3 separate regions of the Homo sapiens genome follow, and all the other regions are linked to region 1. The links come from fine-mapping of genetic effects on gene expression. A gene starts in region 1. Each other region holds a variant in brackets. All regions are shown on one strand. Distances are between the middles of the regions. Region 1 holds the start of SLC12A6 (solute carrier family 12 member 6). Region 2 overlaps SLC12A6 (solute carrier family 12 member 6). Region 3 has its middle 5.3 kb from the start of KATNBL1.

The links. PIP is the estimated chance that this variant, and not a neighbour inherited with it, causes the effect. A credible set is the group of variants that fine-mapping cannot tell apart.
Region 2: its variant is the best candidate, but not a certain one, in a credible set for the expression of SLC12A6 in fibroblasts (GTEx, PIP 0.55).
Region 3: its variant is the best candidate, but not a certain one, in a credible set for the expression of SLC12A6 in pancreas (GTEx, PIP 0.86).

The regions. Positions count from the first base shown.
Region 1 is chr15:34,335,095-34,339,338 of GRCh38, forward strand. It overlaps SLC12A6 (solute carrier family 12 member 6), which reads right to left and starts at 2,687. Exons shown (of 26, transcript NM_001365088.1): 1 at 2,238-2,687; 2 at 1,316-1,658. The coding sequence starts at 1,586. RefSeq lists enhancers at 752-801, 862-931, 1,133-1,252 and a silencer at 2,542-3,101.
Region 2 is chr15:34,301,920-34,306,163 of GRCh38, forward strand. The region is part of intron 2 of SLC12A6 (solute carrier family 12 member 6); the gene reads right to left. Among named protein-coding and RNA genes, the nearest start is that of SLC12A6, 34 kb to the right of the region's middle. The variant G/T (reference allele first, on the strand shown) is at 2,264.
Region 3 is chr15:34,213,299-34,217,542 of GRCh38, forward strand. No RefSeq gene overlaps it. Among named protein-coding and RNA genes, the nearest start is that of KATNBL1, 5.3 kb to the left of the region's middle. RefSeq lists an enhancer at 746-1,341. The variant G/C (reference allele first, on the strand shown) is at 2,333.

The DNA of each region.
Region 1 (4,244 bases):
AATTTGGAATTAATTTGGAGGAAGAGGAAATGATAAATTTGTATTCCATACTGTAATTTTAATCCAGTGTATGACACACTGTAAAATTTGTCAAAAAGTTGAAAACAGTAAAGTCTGAGAACCAACCTATGTCTCCATAAAAGAAAAAATGATTAGTCAAGGATGAGTGAATTCTAGGACTGTAAACTTTACCAAATCTACCTTGTCTCCAGATACTAAAAACACAAACAGAATTAGGGAACTAAAATCATTCTGGTTTCCTGAACCCTTTAGGTTAAAAGGAACAATATTTCCTGACACCGGAAAATGGTGAGTAAGCCTTGCTTTCACAAGTCAGTGGGTGAGGCTATGGTTTTCAAACTTGGGTGGAATATTATTTTAAGAGTCTTTAAGGGAAATTTTTATCATTAAAAGATTACATTAGTTACAACACAGCATAAAACTAAATATATAAAGCAGTACAGGTCTCAAACTTTTAAATTTCAGAGTCCAAAAAATGTTATGATCTCCCCATTTTCTCTCTTCTCTCTCTTCCATCACCTCTTCCCAGTACCTCAAATAAAACCAAGCCAGCTGACACACACAAACTGGTTTAGGAAGCTAAAGGTCTGTAGCAGTCAACATGAGCCAGGAGTGGCTTGTGTGCTACCTGCTAACTCTAATCATCAGACTTTCCATCTAAAGCTCAGAGAGAATAAATTACATGGGAATCAGGCCCTAAAAGCCTTTTCAGAAGTCTTCCATTTGACAGAATAGCACATTAGGTCTACCCACCATCACCCTGAGTGGGCTTAGCTACTTGTGTCAAGGTCTCCATAAAAATACAGATTTCAAAAAAGAATTTTGCAATACACATTCGAAGTCTTGGAGGAAAGCTGCTAAGATACGACCAGTAACTACTCCATGAAACCAGTCTTAAAGCAGACTGAAATAGCCAATGATGGCTACAGAACACATATCCAACTCACTAAATTTTAAAATTTAGGATTCTGTGTGCTGAAAACGATTACATTCTTTGATATTCACTTTTAACCAAAATACCCATTTCATTTCTAAGAAGACAAAAATGAGGAAGTTAAAATATACATTTGCCTTCCTTCTTGTCATACACCTTCCCACATACCAAATTACTACTGCAAAGAGCCACTATGCTATTATTCCAAAGAGTTCCTAAGCATCTCACAAAGAGATGCCTTGGTTCCTGATGACTATTATAATCATAATTATATGATTATGATCTTCCAGATCCATAGATGGTCATCTTGGATAAAGAACCCAGTAATGAAAGTATGCTGCGGTCTGTGTTTCTACTTACCCTCGATGACATCCTGGGGGTGAGAAGTCCGGTCACTGGGTGGATCCAGTGCAACAGTTGCCAGCGAAGTGGTGGCCCCAGACATCTCACTCATAGGCTCACTCCGGCTTGTTTCAGGCACGCTTTCCCGGGAGCTAAATCTTACTCGGGAACTAGATCGAGAGCTGAGGTCCGGACTGGTGTCTGACAAACCTGGAATGTCATCGATCTTTGTCGGTGTCACCATGAACCGAACTGAAGCCATCTTGGTGGTGGTTTCTGGAGGATGCATTTTGTTCTTTTTAAGAACAAAAAAAGTGGGGGGAACCTCGCAAAATCTTCCTCTTACGCTAGCTACTTTTGACTGCAATACAAAAGATAACTTGAAAAATAACACATTTCAATAACCTTGATTCACACCACACAAAAAGCCCCAACTAAGAATACTTCTACTCAGAATTCAAGCCGACTGTCCTAGAAAGTGCATCACCAATAGGTGAATATATTTTTTAAGAGAGAAAAAAACAAAAAACAAAAAGACAAAACAATGCCAATCTTGTGTGACTTCTTTCCTTCAGAATGAAGAGCTACCTAGCTAACCCCTCTGGTCCGGGGCTGAAGGCTCAGTGCCATGGTCTCAGGGCAGCAGATGAAGCCTCCCTCCCCTCAGCCCCCAGTTTCCTGTCGAGGTAGTCCTTTATCTGGTGAGTGTCCCACGGTTCTAGTTGGGCGAAGTGCGTGCAGGCAAACCTTTATCAGGCGACTATAGCGTGGATCAGATTGCTAAAAGGTGTACACCCGGCCACCTGTTGTGTATCAGGTGAATACCCCACAGGTCTGGCTGGGGGGAGGTGTATGCAAAGCCACCCGGTGTTTTTGATGTCGACAATCCACTTGGGTCTGGTGGGAAAGGTGCACATGCATAACGGGAAAAATAACCCACACTACTGAGAGAAGGGTGAGCAGAGGAGGATGCAGGGGCAGAGCGGATTCCTGTCTCCGAGAGGTCGGTGGGGGTGGCGCGCCCGCTCTTCTCCTAGCAGAAAGGTCCTCGGGGTCTGGGAGGAGGTTAGCGGATCAAGACACCTCGGACTGCAGCTCAGAGTCGTGGCAAGTCGTAGCTAGTCCACTGAGCCACGGTCCGCTCGCTAGGTTTCTCCTGCGTGTGACAGGACGAGCCACCCCCTTTGCCGGAGGCGCGTTCTCCCCTACCCCCGCCCCGGCGCAGGTCACCCCCTCGTCGTTCTTCCTCAGGGTCCCAGTAGAGGAGGAGACGGCCACGCAGGCTGGCCTGACTGGGCAGCAGGGTGAGGGAGAAGGAGGTCGCAGGTGCAGTATCCCGGCGCCAGCTGATGCGGGTGCGCGCGCAGCTGTTGTTTACTAGCCGGTAACTGTTTCAGAGCCGCGGCGCGCGCAGGGTTCGCGCTGCCGGGGCTGGCGCCCCCTCCCCGGCCCGACGCCAGAGCAGCAGTTACGTGACCTGGCCTCCCCCAGCCCCGGGCCCGACGGGGTGCGCCCGCGCCGCCGCAGCCCTTCCCTTCCCTCCCCGCTTGTTCCTCATTCGAGGTGAACCTTGCGAAGAGAAGCCCGGGGGTGCAGTGAGAGGGCGGAACCGTCCCGCGGGCGCCCGAAAGCCCCGCCCAGCCGCCGCAGCCCGCGGTGACCGAGTGCAGCGCGCCTGCGCTCGCCGCGGGACACGGCAGGCGGGGCGGGGCCGAATACGAGTGGCCAGGGGCACGACGGGAGCTGTAGTCCAGGGCACGGCCCGACCCGCGTGAAGAGGGGAATAATCCTTTTCCTCGGTCCGGCTGTGCTGCACACTCACTCTGGAAGCATCCTAGAGGGCGGGCGCTGCTCCTCACCCTCAGAACCCGGGGAGCCATTTCTCTTTCATGAGTGTCTCTGAAAACATCATTCATGATTTCTTTAACCAGAAACACCGCTCCTATACCTGGGAATAACCCTCATTGTAATTTTTATGTAGAGGTCTACATACAAATAAACCACTTTTATGTAAAAAAAAAAAATTAAAACTATAAAGTAGGCCTGGCGCGGTGGTTCACGACTGTAATCCTAGCACTTTGGGAGGCTGAGGCGGGCGTGATCGATCACCTGAGCTCAGGAGTTCCAGACCAGCCTGGCCAGCATAGCGAAACCCCGTCTCTACCAAAAATTCAAAAATTAGCCGGGCGTGGTGGCGTGTGCCTGTAATCCCAGCTATTCCTTAGACTGAGGCAGGAGAATCGCTTGAGCTTGGGAGGCGGAGGTTGCAGTGAGCCGAGAACGCACCATTGCATTCCAGCCTGGGGGGACAAGAGCAAAACTCCGTCTCAAAGAAATAAATAAATAAAAATAAAACTATAAAGTACCTTAAACACATTTGTCCTACTTTAATTTTTTGTTGTTGTTCTTGTCCTTTTAATAAATGCTATGTCCACTTTCTAGTCAGACTGAAAGTTCCACTAAATAATACGTTTTTTTATACCTGGAGAAGACGTTGATGTATTTTCTCAAATCCATTCCATGTTTTCACCACTACATTTGTCGCTAGAATATTTTTTCTTAGTGTTTATTTAATGTATAAATGGTGGTGTTCGATAAATTCTGACTCACCAATGTTTTGTTTGAAAAGCTATTTCCTATAGCTGTGATCAAGACCTCTAAATTTAACAATCACCTGGGCCCAGAAACTGGCCCCCGGTTTTGCCTGGGGTCTTGGCTCCTCACAAGTGGTTATGTTTAAGCAGCACTCCTAGCAATGGGAACTGTATTCCCGGAAGTTCTCTTTTATCAAATGACACACAAAGTCCAAATCCTTTCAAGGATTAAAGGATCAAAAAGGTTAAAAAGATCCTGGTAACAAAATGAGAAATCCTAATGTAAAGTGTAAACCTCCTAAAGTTTGACTCTTTATAAAGTCTGGGTTTCTTGATTCAGGCCCACAGCTTTC
Region 2 (4,244 bases), 33 kb before region 1:
GTCCCAAGCAAGAGAAATGTTAAGACCACTTTTTGTTTGAGCTCAGATTTGTATAAAGAAAATGCAAATGAGGTAAACTGTGTTCTGAATACATTAGATTAAGTTGTGTTGAAATTCTTCCAAATATGTGGAGATAAATCCACTAGAAGTTGAAGAACTCAGCAGTGATGAAGATAGTTATACTTCTAATTCACAGCCTATAACTTATACAACCTATGGTTGTAATTTTCTTCTCAGCCTATAACACTGAGAAGATGGTGAGAGTAATACCAGACAGTAGATTTAATAAAGGCCAAAGTATAATATAAAGAGAGTTTATTGGGCCAAATCCACAAACTGGTCAGTCAAGAAAAGTATAAATGATACAAGAGGACTGTACCTACACAGTTAAAAAAGAAGAAAAAAAACTTACTAAGAAATAACAAAGGAGGATGGATCTTGAGGCTGTTGCAAATATTACTGAAGAAAATTATGTATAAAGAAGATTATGGGCTAGCCAGGTGTGGTGGCTCATGCCTGCAATCCTGACACTTTGGGAGGCCGAGGCGGGTGGATCACTTGAGGTCAGGAGTTTGAGACCAGCCTGTCCAACATGGTGAAACCCCATTTCTACAAAAATACAAAAATTAGCCAGGTGTGGTGGCGGGAGCCTGTAATCCCAGCTACTCGGGAGGCTGAGGTAAAAGAATTGCTTGAACCCAGGAGGCGGAGGTTGCAGTAAGCTGAGATTGTGCCACTGCACTCCAGCCTGGGTGACACAGTGGCTCATGCCTATAATCTTGGCACTTCCGGAGGTGGAGGTGGGATGATTGCTTGGGCCTAGGAGTTCAAGACCAGCCTGGGCAACACAGGGAGATTTGTCTCTACAAAAAAATTAAAAATTAGCCTGGCGTAGTAGTGGATGTCTATAGTCCCAGCTACTTGGGAGGCTGAGGTGAGAGGATTGCTTGAGCCCAGGAGGCTGAGGCTGCAATGAGCCATAATCATGACACTGCACTTCAGCCTGGGTGACAGACGGGAGAAGGGAGACCCTGTCTCAAAAAAAAAAAAAAAAAAAAAAAGATTATGTCATTCTTTGGTCTTGTGGATGATCCAAATTATTTTTCATGCACTGTGGAAACATATTTCACATTTTCATTTTAAAGATGGTTTTGGAAAAATAAACATGACCATAAGAGACTATCTTCTTAACAAGAAGGGGAGAAAATTGGCCTAAACAACAAATTAGGAACTAAGGAGTTAAAAGGGGAATTAGGGGGACTAAGAGACTACTGTGAACATTTCCAATATTTTAAGAGCCTATATTGATTTCATGTTACAGTCAAAGGTTAACTGCTTAATGTAGGCTGAACATAACATTTCCTAAAGTTTTAAACCCAGACATTAAACTAGAAACTATTATTATATATACTGTATTCTGGAATTTTTTAAAAACATTGTTTTTAGTGTGTATACTTTGAATAGTAAATGTGTCATGATCTTCAATAATTTAGAAAATATAAATGGAATCATATATAAACTTTTGAGACTGCCTTTTTTTCATTGAGCCTAATGCCTTGCAGATTCATGCAAGCTGCTGTGTATTATCAACACTAGTTCCTCTTTAAAAAAAATACATTTTGAAACATAAACTACAGACCTGCCATGGTTTGAATATATCCTCCCAAAAGCATCTGTTGGAAACTTAATCCCCAATGCAACATCACTGGGAGGTGGGGGACTAATTAGAGGTAATTAGGCCATTAGGTAATTAAGCCACCCTCAACAATGGATTAATGTCATTATCAAGAGAGTTTGTAACAAAATAGGGAGTTTGGTCCCCTTCTCTCTCACTCCCTCTTACCCTCTCTGCCCTCTGCCATGGGAAGATGCAGCAAGAAGGCCCTCAGCAGATGCTGGCACCTTGGTCTTGGACTTTCCAGCCTCCAGAACCACGAGTCAATAAATTTCAATTCATTATAAATTACCCAGTCTGTGGTATTGTTATAGCAGCATGAAACATACTAAGACAACACCATATAATTCACTCAAAGTGTTCAGTGTTTCTTAATATAGTCACACTGTTGTGTAGCTGTCACCACAATCTAATTTTACATTTTTGTCTCCCCACTAAAAGAAACCCTCTACCCATCAGCAGGCTAATCCCCATCTCACTCTCCCCAACCCTATCCAGACTAAACGACCATTAATCTAACTTCTGCCTCTATAAATTTACCTATTCTGGACATTTCCTACGAATGGAATCATACAGTATGTGTTTGGG[G/T]TTTTTTGCAACTAGATTCCTTAACTTGCATTTTCAAGCTTCACACATGTTATAGCAGGAATCAGTACTTTGTTTTTATTGCCAAATAATATTCCATTATATGGCTATATCACATTTTATCTATTCATTTGTCAGCTGGAGGACATTTGGGCTGTTACTTCTTTATTAGCTATTATTTATAATGCTGCTATAAACATTCCTGTACAAGTTTTTGTGTGGAAATACACTTAATTACTGGGACATATGGTAATTCTATGTTTAACTTTTTAAGAAACTGTCAAATTGTTTTCCAAAGTAGTTGTACTATTTTACATTGTCACTAGTAGCAGATGAGAGTTTCAATACTTCACATCCTTTCCAACACTTGATATCTGTCTTTTTGTTTATAGCCATCCCAGTGAGTGTGAAAAAACTGTACCTCATTTTGGTTTTGATGTGTATTTCTTTAATAACTAATGATGTTGAGCATCTTTTCATGTACATATTGGTGCTTTTTCCTCTCCTCACCTTAATTGGAAAGCTGTTACTTCCTTTTGTTCCCACAGTTTTGAGGTTCTGCCCTGACTTACTTATCACATTGTAAATATTATTGTTCTCTGAACTATGCATCCTTTGGTTAAAAACCTTACTTAGCATTTACATAATACATTCCCAAAGAGTCTGTCATTTTCCATTATTTCTATCCCTTTCATCATGTGATCTCTGTTCTAGGTCACTTGTTATTTGGCTAAAACCCCTTCTTGAATTTTCTCAGAGGAGTTAAGTGGGTATTATATCCTTGAAATTTTTGTATAGTTGTAACATGTTTCCCCTCATAGGGGAGAAATATCTTCAAGGGAAATAGGGATTTGGGATTGTGAAATCCCCAATCTGTAAATACTCTTCTACCATCTCCTAGTTTCCAGTGTTGTGAATTAGAATTCTGATTCCAGTCTGTTACTTGATAGGTGCAACCTGTTCTATCTGGAAGCCTCCAAGGTGAATCCTTGGAGCTCAAAAATTTTACAAGGATATCCCTATGTATGTGTTTTTCATCACTGATCTCCCCCAGAACTTCATTCTGCACACTGAAGTCTTTAGCTCAGGAAATAATTTTATGTTGTTTAATTATTCCTTCTCCATTTGTTCCTTTTTCTTCTTCTGGAACTTGTATTAGCCATGTTAGGTGTCCTGAATCGATCCAATAGGTCTCTTTTTTAAAAGTTTTTTTTTTTTGTATTTTTTTTTTGGCTCCATGCTTTGAAATATTTATTTTACTTGATCTTCCAGGTCAATAATTGTTCATACTCATTCATTCCTTTATTCAATAATTATGTTTCGGGCGCCTACTATGTGTAAGACAGTGTTCTAGGTATTAGAGTTGACAACAGATTAGCAGTGAATACAAGACAAAAAAGTTCCTGTTCTCCTGGTGCTTACACTCTAGCAGAGATAGTTTTAAAAAAAATAAGTGTGTGAGGATAAATGGAGTCAGGTGATAATAATTATTTAGGTGGAAAAATCACATTTTTTGTTCCATAAAGTCTTAAATGTGGCCCATTATTATTTTCATGTTCAAGTTTCTCTCTCCTCCAGCATTTTTTTTTTTTTTTTAAAGATGGAGTCTCGCTCTGTCACCCAGGCTAAAGGGAGTGGCGCGATCTCGGCTCACTGCAACCTCTGCCTCCTGGGTTCAAGTGATTCTCCTGCTTCAACCTCCTGAGTAACTGGGACTACAGGCGCCCACCACCGCGCCCGGCTAATTTTTTGTATCTTTTTTTAGTAGAGATGGGGTTTCCCCATGTTAGCCAGGATGGTCTCGATCTCCTGACCTCGTGATCCGCCCGCCTCGGCCTACCAAAGTGCTGGGATTACAGGCGTGAGCCACCGTGCCCAGCCTCCTCCAGCATTTCTATTTAGCTAACTCAATATATTGTTTATTCTAAGTGGTTTTTCTCTTTCAGGTTGCCTGGCTTCCCCAGATGGGTTGTTTATCTTTGTC
Region 3 (4,244 bases), 120 kb before region 1:
GGTCCTAGAAGCCATATCATTTACTGCATTGTATGTCATTCTCATTGAGACCAATGCCGATTCTGACAGAGAACAATGCCTGAAGGGACCTAAAAGACAGCAACAGCTCACCCATTCCACACTGCTCAGCCTCAGCACCTTTGGAAAATTCTAGGCAGTTGACTTTAGCAGTCAAAGTGAGAAGTCAATCCCTTTTTTCTGCTCCTCCCTTCCCTACCTTCCTTTGCAGGCTGTGGAAGGAAGTAATGGCAGAAGCAGTAAGCAAAAAAAACAAAAACAAAAACAAACCCAAAAAACAAAACAAAACCCCTGGTAGTGTTTTTTGCGGGGTGAAGGGTGGGTGGTAGGGAGGTGTTGAGTGATGGGGGATCCTATTTTTAAGATAGCTTGTTTCTGCTACATCTACAGCCCTCTATTGTAAATCTACAACTGAGATCAGGTGACCCAAAAACATTTATGACTATGATAATATTTGGTATTTATAGACTTTCAAATCCGAATCTCAAGAAACCATCTCTCTCCTCCTGCAAGTACATTTCCTGCAATTAGACTATACTGTCACCAGGTGGAACGTGGTGGGGGCAGCATGTTAGACTAGCCTTGGAGCAAGGCTCATCTCTATTTAAAACCTAGATTGCTGCCTTTGGGCCGTTTCTACACCGGTTTTTACCTTAATGTGCAATGGGGATAACACTCTCCTCTCAGGGGCTGTTGGGAAGTGGGATAACCTATATAAAACATATACAACAATGCCTAGAGCAGTGATTGTGTCTCTCTCTGAAAAACTGAGTTTAGTGATTTTTCCAAGATAGAGAAGAATACAATATGGTTGACTGCTGCCTTGGAAAAGGGAAGTCCTGGAATTAGACTACCTGGGGGTCAGGGTGCAGGAGAGGGTGAAGTGTCAATGTTGGGGGTGGGGTCAGGAGGCACGGAACAGACTCACTGTGATGCTGATGGCCTGGTAACCAGAACAGGGTACCTGAAAAGTCCTATCATATGCAAAACAAATCCAATTATGTATGCAGTTGCTGGTGGAGGTGGTGGGGGGAGGGGAGATGTTCAGTACAACTGGGACCCCATAACAGGTGAAGTACAGAGGAGTTCCTGGCGAGCAGGCAAGCAGGAAATAAAATGCGCTAGCAGTTAGCAGGGCAACAATCATCAGAAGCAGAAAGTCCTTGGGAAGAGGACTTAAAAGAGCAAAGCAGGTCCCTAGCCTCAAGAGACAGGAGCAGTAGAAAGATTACTAAGACACTTCTTGGAGCCAGACACAAAGGCAGAACCGCTCTTGCAGTAACACAATTGAGCCTGAACCTAAACTGGCTTGAGTTACTTCCCCAACTTAGCTCTGTGTTCTTCAGGACATCAGTTCTAAGAGATGTTGATAGGTTCAAAAAAGAAGAGAAAAAGAAGAAAGTGGTTTCCTTGGCCACAGAAGTTTGGTAACTGCTGAAGTAAACAAATATTTCTTTACTGTAGCACTTCTCGGTCTTTAAAAACCTAACATTTGTTGTCAATTTTTAAAGAAAGATACATGCAGTGTTTCCTAAACTTATCTGAACGCTTAATCCTTTAAATGGGAGAACACAAATACTATTAAGAATTATTCTTATCTAAGAAGAGTGTCAGGACTAGTCCAGGTCCTGGAGAATAGGGTATGGCTGCAGCAGTAGGCTGGGAGGAGAGGACTGTGGAAGCTGGATTAGGCATGGTGCCTCATGATCAGGGCTGGATGAAAGCAACAGGCCTGAAAATCTGGCAGAGCTATAAGAAACATTTTAAAAAACCGAAATAAAAATGTACTCATTCTTTTTCCTGTGCCTTTTCTAAAAAGTAAAAATACCGCTCTTCATGAAATAGCATCTTATAAAACAGTATACAGTATTAAATAAGTCTAAATATTAATTTTTAAAGTCTGAAAACATCTAAATCAAAATGCTCATGAAAGGTTTTTTCTTTGGCATGATAGGATTTGTTGGTTATCTTTTTTGCCTATTTGTATTTCTCATTTATATAATAAATGTGTTGCTTTTAAATTAAAGTTACTTTTTAAAACCATTTTATTAAAGAAACCAATCATAGCAATTAGGAAATTAAGTAAAACTTTTTGTGGGCCGAGCGTGGTGGCTCACGCCTGTAATCCCAGCACTTTGGGAGGCCGAGGCGGGCGGATCACGAGGTCAGGAGATCAAGACCATCCTGGCTAACACGGTGAAACCCCGTCTCTACTGAAAATACAAAAAATTAGCTGGGCGTGGTGGTGGACGCCTGTAGTCCCAGCTACTTGGGAGGCTGAGGCAGGAGAATGGCGTGAACCCGGGAGGCGGAG[G/C]TTGCAGTGAGCTCAGATCGTGCCGCTGCACTGCAGCCTGGGCGACAGAGCGAGACTCTGTCTCAGGAAAAAAACAAAAAAAACGACTTTTCATGTAAATGTTTTAAAGTTTAGGATTTAATTCTGTAACTATGGCAATATTATTTTACCTGTTATTATTTTATTGTTATCATTTTCTCCTTAAGCTAACCCTTAATACATCTGAATGGACTCTCTTTTAGAAAGAGACGTATTTGTTTCTTAGGGTCGCTGTGACAAAGTACCACAAACTGAATAGCTTAAACCAACAGAAGTATATTATCTCACAGTTCCAGAGGCTAGAAGTCCAAACAGCCTCCGGAACAGGACCATGCGCCCTCTGAAGGTCTAGGGAATAATCCTTTGCCTCCTCTTCCTAGCTTCCTCGGCTTGTAGCTGCATCATTCCAATCTGTCTCCATTCATCACATGGCCTTCTTCCCTATGTGTCTGTGTGACCTCTTCATATAAGGATGCTATAGTCATCAGATTTAGGTCTCACTGTAATCCAGTATGACCTCATCTTAACCAATGTATCAGCCAAGACCTTCATTGCAAAGATCTGATGTGAGACTCTGGGTGGATACGAATTTGGGGGTGGGGAGGAAATTATTCAATTCACTGAAAGACTCTAGCAATGATTTAATCAATAAACCCTTAGAACTGTAAATCAGTACATTTTAGAGAGCCTATTATTTGAACCCATCAACATTTTAACTGTATAAAACTGTGGGAAGAGATCCTAATTTTATCACTGTCCTACAGAAATGTGTTGACAAGTGCCCAACGATGTTCACAGCAACATTTTTTTGTAATAGCGAAAAATGGGAACAAGCTGAATGTCTATCAATTTGGGACTAATTAAATTATCTCACATCTACATTCTGCAGCCTTGAAAAAGAATAAGGTAGATCTGCATGATAGACATGGAAGATATCCAAAATAGATTAAGTAAAAAAAGCAAGTCAATAGACAGTGTTTAGTACATTCCTATTTACATAATGAGCAAATTAAACAACTCTACATTTATGTACATGTTTTAAGGAATAGCTTTATTTATCTTTCAAACATTAAAAGATACCTATTGTTCTCCAACTCTTCTGAATTTCATTTCATCCTTGTATTATTCTGCTTGGGTTGCCATAACAAAATACTGGGTGCTTTAAACCAGTGGTCCTGAACATTTTTGGCACCAAGGACCAATTTTATGGAAGACAATTTTTCCACAAATGTGAGCTGGGCAGGGAGGGTGGTTTCAGGATGAAACTGTTTCATCTCAGATCATCAGGCATTAAGACATAAGGAATACACAACCTAGATCCCTCACATGCACAGTTCATAATAGGGTTTGAGCTCCTAAAGAATCTAATGCCCCCTCCTTGATCTCATGGGAGGCAGAGCTCAGGCAGTAATGCTCCCTGGCCTTGGCAGAGAGCTCTTGGGTGTCTTATAAGGGCAATGCTATCATGAGACATCCACCCTCATTACCTCATTTAACTCTAATTACTTCCCAAAGGCTCTATCTCTAAATACCATCCCATAGAGGATTAGGATCATCCCATATGATTTCTGGGAGGACACAAACAATCAGTCCATAACAATCTTCCTTTAAAAGACTCAGGTTATGGCCAGGTGTGGTGGCTCACACCTGTAATCCCAGCACTTTGGGAGGCCGAGGTGGGTGGATCACCTGAGGTCAGGAGTTCAAGACCAGCCTGGCTAACATGGTGAAACCTTGTCTCTACTAAAAATACAAAAAATTAGCCAGGCATGTGGCAATGCCTGTAATCCCAGCTACTCAGGAGGCTGAGGCAGGAGAATGGCTTGAACCTGGGAGGCGGAGGTTGCAGTGAGTCAAGATGGTGCCATTGCACTCCAGCCTGGGCAACAAGAGC